Homo sapiens: one gene and its partner. The protein of the gene in region 2 purifies or fractionates together with the protein of the main gene of each other region. This does not show direct contact. Each region holds a gene or a part of one and is shown on either strand. Other genes may lie near its edges.

The links.
Region 1: the proteins of CDIN1 (region 2) and ZNF609 purify together in Homo sapiens (affinity purification with mass spectrometry; one large-scale study listed by BioGRID and IntAct). This does not show direct contact.

The regions. Positions count from the first base shown.
Region 1 is NC_000015.10:64,498,578-64,502,077, reverse strand, and holds part of ZNF609 (zinc finger protein 609), read right to left. Parts: intron 2,786-3,500; 5' UTR 2,659-2,785; coding exon 1,912-2,658; intron 1-1,911. UniProt on the Homo sapiens protein: Transcription factor, which activates RAG1, and possibly RAG2, transcription. Through the regulation of RAG1/2 expression, may regulate thymocyte maturation.
Region 2 is NC_000015.10:36,582,626-36,586,125, reverse strand, and holds part of CDIN1 (CDAN1-interacting nuclease 1), read right to left. Parts: intron 1-3,500. UniProt on the Homo sapiens protein: Plays a role in erythroid cell differentiation.

The sequences.
Region 1 (3,500 bases), about 28 Mb from region 2:
CCATTCTCAGAGTCTCCCTGGGAGGCAAAGCTTATATGGCAAAGCAACATTATTAAGGGACAAAACTCCCTGGCACCAGGATGTATTCTTAGCTGAACATACTGCATCTTTCAGCCCAATTATAATCTGAAGGGCAGCCACCCAATCAGTCCCTGCACCTCTATGTGAGAAAATGGGTTCCATTTGCTTCTCTGTTAGAGACAATCATGGACATTTACACTTAAATCCAACATAAAGCTAAGCAATATTAATCCTTTCATCCACAGACTATCACTGGGCTTAGAAGGTTGCAACATAAGTACTCTAAAATTTAGATAGGAGAATGAAGGTCATCCTCAGAAGTACTTTTTAGCACAGGAAGAATAATGATTATGAATATGGATATATGGCAAGAGTTTCTTGAAGCCAGATGTAGGGAACAGTCTAATGGGCCTGGAACAGAAGCAACAACTGCTAGTACTCCTAAGCCTCTTTAAAACAGTATTATCCATCTGTACCCGAGAGAAAATAGCAAATCACAGCCAGCACAGGATGAGCCAAGCTAGTAACCAGCTGGAACCTGACTCTGCTGAAGTGGACTATAGCATCTGCCACCTAAACACAGGCAGCCTCTCTGGCAGCTGCCACTGGTAAAAGGGAATGAGCCACTGTATTATTAGTGGAAGAAACTCACAGACCTGCTACTGGAGAAGCCCAGATGTTGCTAAGAGCTACAGATGTGCCAGAGGCAAAGACCAAAATACCGACAGCAAAGAAAGCATGAGCTACCACTGGAATACAGGCACTAAGAGGGCACCACCACCCAAACATACACATCCAGCCTTTATTTATTAACACTTACATATGGAAATAGGTATTCCCTGCTGCAGCTGATCTAATTACAGAGAAATCAATTTATACTGCATCTGCTGGGATCAGCTGAAAGCACAGGATGAGCAGAGCACAGAGCAGAAAATCAAGAGCCAATGAACAGCTCACCACAAGGCCACTGTTTTGCAGGAATAAGCTGCTGAAGTTTAATGCTGCCTGAGCTGACCCTAGACTCACACCCATTCTCCTCCAGCCCTGCAAGTTCCATTTCCTAAAGCATGAACTAAGATCATCTTCCCAGAGGAGGGACTCAGTTCTAACCCCTCCTGGGGCTGCAGGCACCTGTCCTTCCAAGTCAAGCAGAAGGCAAGGTATCATTACACTGTTGGCAGCTATTAAACCACGAGGAGACTTTGATTCCTAATAGTTGTGGGAGATACCTGGCATGAAGCTACACCTTTAATGGCCAATCTCTTCCTAGGCCAAACTGTCATAACCACAACAATAACTCATAAGATCTAAGTACCTCAAAGTACAATGAGTACCTCTTGCCCTCAAAATGTGCCCCTTCGCTCTTTGGTAGCCGGCAATAGAACACTTCGTAGATATGCCATGAAATTTAGCCCTTTGTTCTACCAGAGACCCAACAGCACCATTTATCCCATCAAGAACCGTACTCAATCTACATTATCACCAAAGGCGTATTGTTTATCAACTATTATGAGTCTGATGATGAAATGCCAGTCAAGCTGGGAAACAAATAAAGGTCTGATGCCAATCTCTACCAACAAGTGTCTGAGGTGGGCAAAGACAAGGTGGGAAGGTCTCAACTCAGACTACAGAAAGTTCATTCTACAAAGTAGCTGCCCCCAACAACAAATATCCTGTTCCACAATGTCCAGGCCTGCTGTAAATGAGTCTGTAGGGGAATCCTCTAATTTGGAAGAAAACCACATTATCATTACCAGCTGCTCTGACCTTGTAATTGGTCATTACCCACACACTAATGAGCCTCCCACAGAGTACACATAGTATTTGGCAGTTAGTCCAGGGCAGTTCTGACTGGCAGTCAGTGGGCAGCCATATCTGGCCACCTCTTACCTTTTCAGACTTGACTTTCTTTAGCAGGCGACACTCATTCTCCCCTTCCTCTGGCTCCGGTTTAGTTCCCAAAGGATTGAGCGCTGCCCCAGGCTCAATAGCTATACTCCCAAGTGGCTCCACAGCTCCTGTATCCACCCCTGCACTTCCATCATACTGACCACCCCGTCCTCCCAAGGGAACTGGCTGGAGGACCCCAGGATCCTTTTCTGAACAAGTCCCCACTCCTTCGCTTCTCTCCTTCTTGCTCTTAGATGAGCTGTTCTCCTTCTCCTTTTTGGAACCGGCTACACTGCGGGATGCCTTAGCCGCCTTCTCTGAGCCCTTGGGAGCAATAGCAGCAACCAGGCCTCCAGCATTGGCACCATCTCCTGAGCGCCCCTGCACCTCTTTCTTGCTAGCTGCCCCCTCACTTGGAGTGAACAGGGAAGTCCCTGGAGTGGGTTTGCTAGTGTCTTTGCCACTCTTACTCCTTTTGGATTTTGATTTGCCTTCCTTCCCTTGAGGACCTGGCACTGGGGTCACAAACTTGATGTTGTCTGGTAGTGTGGCCACAGCATTGGGAGCCGGTATCCCCACCTCCTTTGAGCCTGACATTTCCAGTTTCTGCTGGTCCTTTTCCAGATCGGCGTCCAGGTCAATGATGAGATTCCCTACTCCAATGTCCCATTCATCCCCACTGTCGTATGTCTCAACCGGGTTTGCATCCACTCCTTTCCCTCCGGAGGCTCCACTGCTCAAGGACATCTTAGAGTCAACGTCCCACCTCAAGATTCAAGGCTCTTCCTTGCCCCCAGCTTTCCTATTTTCAGCTTCAGCTATGTTCTCAGACCTGCCACATTGGTCAGTACATGCCCAGTGGACAACATCATTGCTGGAAAAAGAAAATTTAAAAAGCTGTTAAAAGAAACAATACAGGCAAGAGACGCCTGAAATAAACTCCCACACAAAAACAGACCCTTCCTATGGGGCTATCATATCACAACAGACATGACAAACAGGTTCAATTGTATTTCTAACCAAGTTACATTGGACCTAAGGAAAAATCAATTCCCACTCCATCTCCCTAGGGGAAAGTACAGTATTTCCAATTGCCCAGAGATTCCATGGTAAGTCTTAACTAGGAGTCCTCTAGAGTTAATTTCCCACTCCTAAGAGACCTATTTCTACTACCACTGTCAGCTGGCAACCCTTCCTCAATCAATACAGGTCCTGGCATATCACAGATGCAAGCTCTAGCACAACTTTACTTATACCCCCATTTCTCCTTGCTTTTTCTTACATTATCAGAGACGCAGAACATGATCTAGCAAAAGCTTTAAAAACTCTCTAACAGGGTCTATCTCTAGTACAAATAGTATAGATTCCTCCTACTATTGGGAAGGAAAAGTCTTATGGTTAAGAATGAAAGAGAAAAACAAGCAGAACTGGGGAAAATGCAACTTCAGGACAGGGGGCTAAGACTTGAACTAGAGGAGACAATCTCAGAGGGGACTCAACCAATCAGCTTAAGTTCAGAGAAGCTGAAACAGCCTTCTAAAACTCCAGGTTTCAAATTATTATCTCAATAGCAGGATTCAAAGTGGCCT
Region 2 (3,500 bases):
TCGAAGGTTCTAGGAGCCGGAACTAGTCATGAGGTGGTCCTGCTAGATGTTGGTCAGACTTTGTCAACTAGGCAGTTTCTGGAACAGAGTTTATGAGTATGGGTTGAGCACATAAGGCTGAATGAGCTCATGATAAAAGAGTTCAGGTTTAGTCAGTAATTGTAGTTTGGTCAGGTAGAGCCTGTTTTGTGAGTCACAGTACAGGTTAGCAAGTTATGGTTATATTTCCACTCTCAAGTAATACATATGTAAGACTCTATAGTAAAACATACTAGTTCTACTGTACACTTCCAATTTTTCTTCTTGTCCTTATGAAGCAATGCCATTGTCATATATCACAAAATTATTTTCCTATTATAAAACACCTTTAGTTTTATTTGTTGATTATAAAGCTATTAAAGAGCTTCAGAATTTAAAAATAATAATAATAATAAAAGTAACATTAGAACTACCAGCTCCTGAGCACAAACCAAGGCAGACACCACCTTAATCAAGTGAATAAGGTTAACGTCTCCAATAATAAGACATATGAAGTCACAGACCCTGATGTAATGCACTAAGTAGGCCACACCATCACTTCCAGGGTACTCTTGCCAAAAGTGTTTACCCTCAATCTAACCATGAGAAAATAAACATCAAACACAAAGGAAAGGACATTCTATAAAATTGACCAGTACTCTTCAAAAGTGTCAAAATCATAAAAGACAAAGAAATAGTAAGAAACTGTCACAGATTGGAAATGACTTAAGACATTACAATTAAATCCAACGTGTGATCCTAGAAAAGGGACATCAGTGAAAAAACTAGCAAAGTTCAAAAAATGTGTCTGTAGATTAATGATATTGCATTAAAATTAACTTACTGATTTTGACAATCGTACCATGGTAATGTTAACATTAAGAGAAGCTGGGTGAAGGGTATATGAGAATTCTCTGTAATATTTCTGCAACTTTTCTGCAAGCTTAAAATTATCCCAAAAACTCTCCCAAAAGTAACAAATAATCAAATATATATGTAGTGTTTGGGCAGGAAATTATAATGTAAAATATAACCTTATAAGTAACAGCTGATTGGACCAGGGGCTTCTAAGAATGTCCACAAGAAAGATTAAAAAATGTCAATCAATAAATATGTCCTCAGCAAGTACTTCAAATGTAGTATGTCCTATGTTTCAGGTGCCAAAGGGCCCATTACAGAAAGTCTTCAAATAACGTTATTTTGTTCAACATTATTTTGTTATAAAGTTGATGAGTATTTTTAAAAATTGTTTCCTGGCTGGGGCCACTGTCTGTGTGGAGTTTGCATGTTCTCCTGACGTCTGCGTGAACTTTCTCCCAGTACTCTGGTTTCCTTCCACATCTCAATGATGTACGTGTCTGCAGAACTGGCATGTCTAAATAGCCCCAGTGTGAGTGAGTATGGGAGTGTGTGTGAGCGTGTCCCGTGCTGGGATGGCTTCATACCTTGCAGCCTGAGCTGCCAGAGGCCACTCAGAATCCTAAACTGGAATAAGCGGGTTGGTAAATAAATGAATGAATAAGTGAATAAATGAATGAATACAAATTACTGTAAAATAAAAATTCATAAATCTATGATAATCATACAAACGCATGACAATAAAGATGCAGTACACAAGTGCTCAGCAAGCTCACCACATTTGTTATTGTTTGCTTTTTGTTTTTTGTTTTTAGAGACAGAGTCTAACTGTTGTGGCTCAGGCTGGACTGCAGTGGCACGTTCCTAACTCACTGCAGCCTCAAACTCCCAGGCTTAAGCAATCTTCTCACCTTAGCATCCTGAGTTGCTGGAACTACAAGCATGTACCACCACACCTGGCTAATTTTTAAATTTTTTTGAAGAGACAGGGTCTCGCTCTGTTGAACAGGCTATTGTTTGCTTTTGAATACATGGTGGTAAGAGGTGCTTCTCACAAATTTCACTTTGCAAACACATACTCTTAGATTTAATCCACCACCACTATGACCACCATCACTCACTGATTCACCAAAAATTGGGTAAATAATTATCTTACTTGTTTAGGCTCACATTAATTTCAATGTTTAATATTAGATGTGTTTTGGGTCTTTATTTTATTTTTTATGGTTTTTTTGAGACGGAGTGTTGCTCTGTCACCCAGGCTGGAGTGCAGTGGCGCCATCTCAGCTCACTGCAAGCTCTGCCTCCCAGGTTCATGCCATTCTCCTGCCTCAGTCTCCTGAGTAGCTGGGACTACAGGCGCCCGCCACCGTGCCCAGCTAATTTTCTGTATTTTTAGTAGAGACGGGGTTTCACTGTGTTAGCCAGGATGGTCTCGATCTCCTGACCTCGTGATCTGCCCGCCTCAGCCTCCCAAAGTGCCGGGATTACAGGCTTGAGCCACAGTGCCCAGCCTTGGGTCTTTATTTAGAAGTTTGGTGATGTTATTATGACCAGAAATATGCTATAGGAACTTAATTCTTGTTTATAACAATTAGCATATGGTAAAATTGCTCTCATTATACATTGTTTCACTTAAAGTTGCAGTCTCCAAAGCCCTACCGAAGACATTAAATGATGACTTACTGTATGGTAAAACTGTAGAAACGAAAATAGAATGAGGGTGAATTTTGGAGTTGTAAGATATTACAGATCACAAAGTCCTACTCCTTCATTTTAAAGTGAAGGATTCTGAGACCACGTAAAACACAGTGACTTGAAAAAACATAATTTTGTAACTTCAGTCAAAACAAGCCATGAAGAAGTGAGGCTACCCCAGAAGTCACAGTAAGAGGAAAAATTAAGCTGGAGAAAAAATTAAGCTACATCTTCACCTCTCAGCATTTACTAAAATAAATTTCAGCCAGAAAGATTTAAAAATTAAGAATAAAAAACAAAGCCATAAAGAATCTAAAAGAAAATTTAGGTGAAATATTTTTTTCTTTCATATATTAGGACAGAAAAGAACTTCCTAAGTATAAAGGCAAAAATGTCAGAAAAAAAAAGCATACATTTAAAAGTTAACCATATCAAAAGCAGAACAATATTTAAAATCAAACAACTGAGAAAATTTATGCAACAAATATGACATATATAGGACCAGCATCCTGAACATATGCAGATCAATAAGTAATAAATCAATAAACAATAACAACAGACATGCCAACAGAAAATTAGGCAAAGGATACCAAACAGGTAATTCAAAGGAAAATTAAGTGGTCAAAAAAATTTGGAAAAAGGTACAACCTATAATAATTTTTAAAATGCTAACTACAAGATGTCATTCTTGATCGAACATATTAAAGATTAAATAATGACTCTTCTCAATACTGGAAAAGTTGCAGAGACAGAGACTCTCACGCTCTGCTAGTAAAAGGACTAGTACAATTTTTTTAAATTTGTCAGTATACATCAAAATCCTTGAAAACATAATTATGCTTTGATTTGAATTAGCTAGTGATTGTCTAAGTGTGGCTGTGGACTTGGAGTCCCTGAGACCCTCTCACAGGTCTACAGGGTCAACA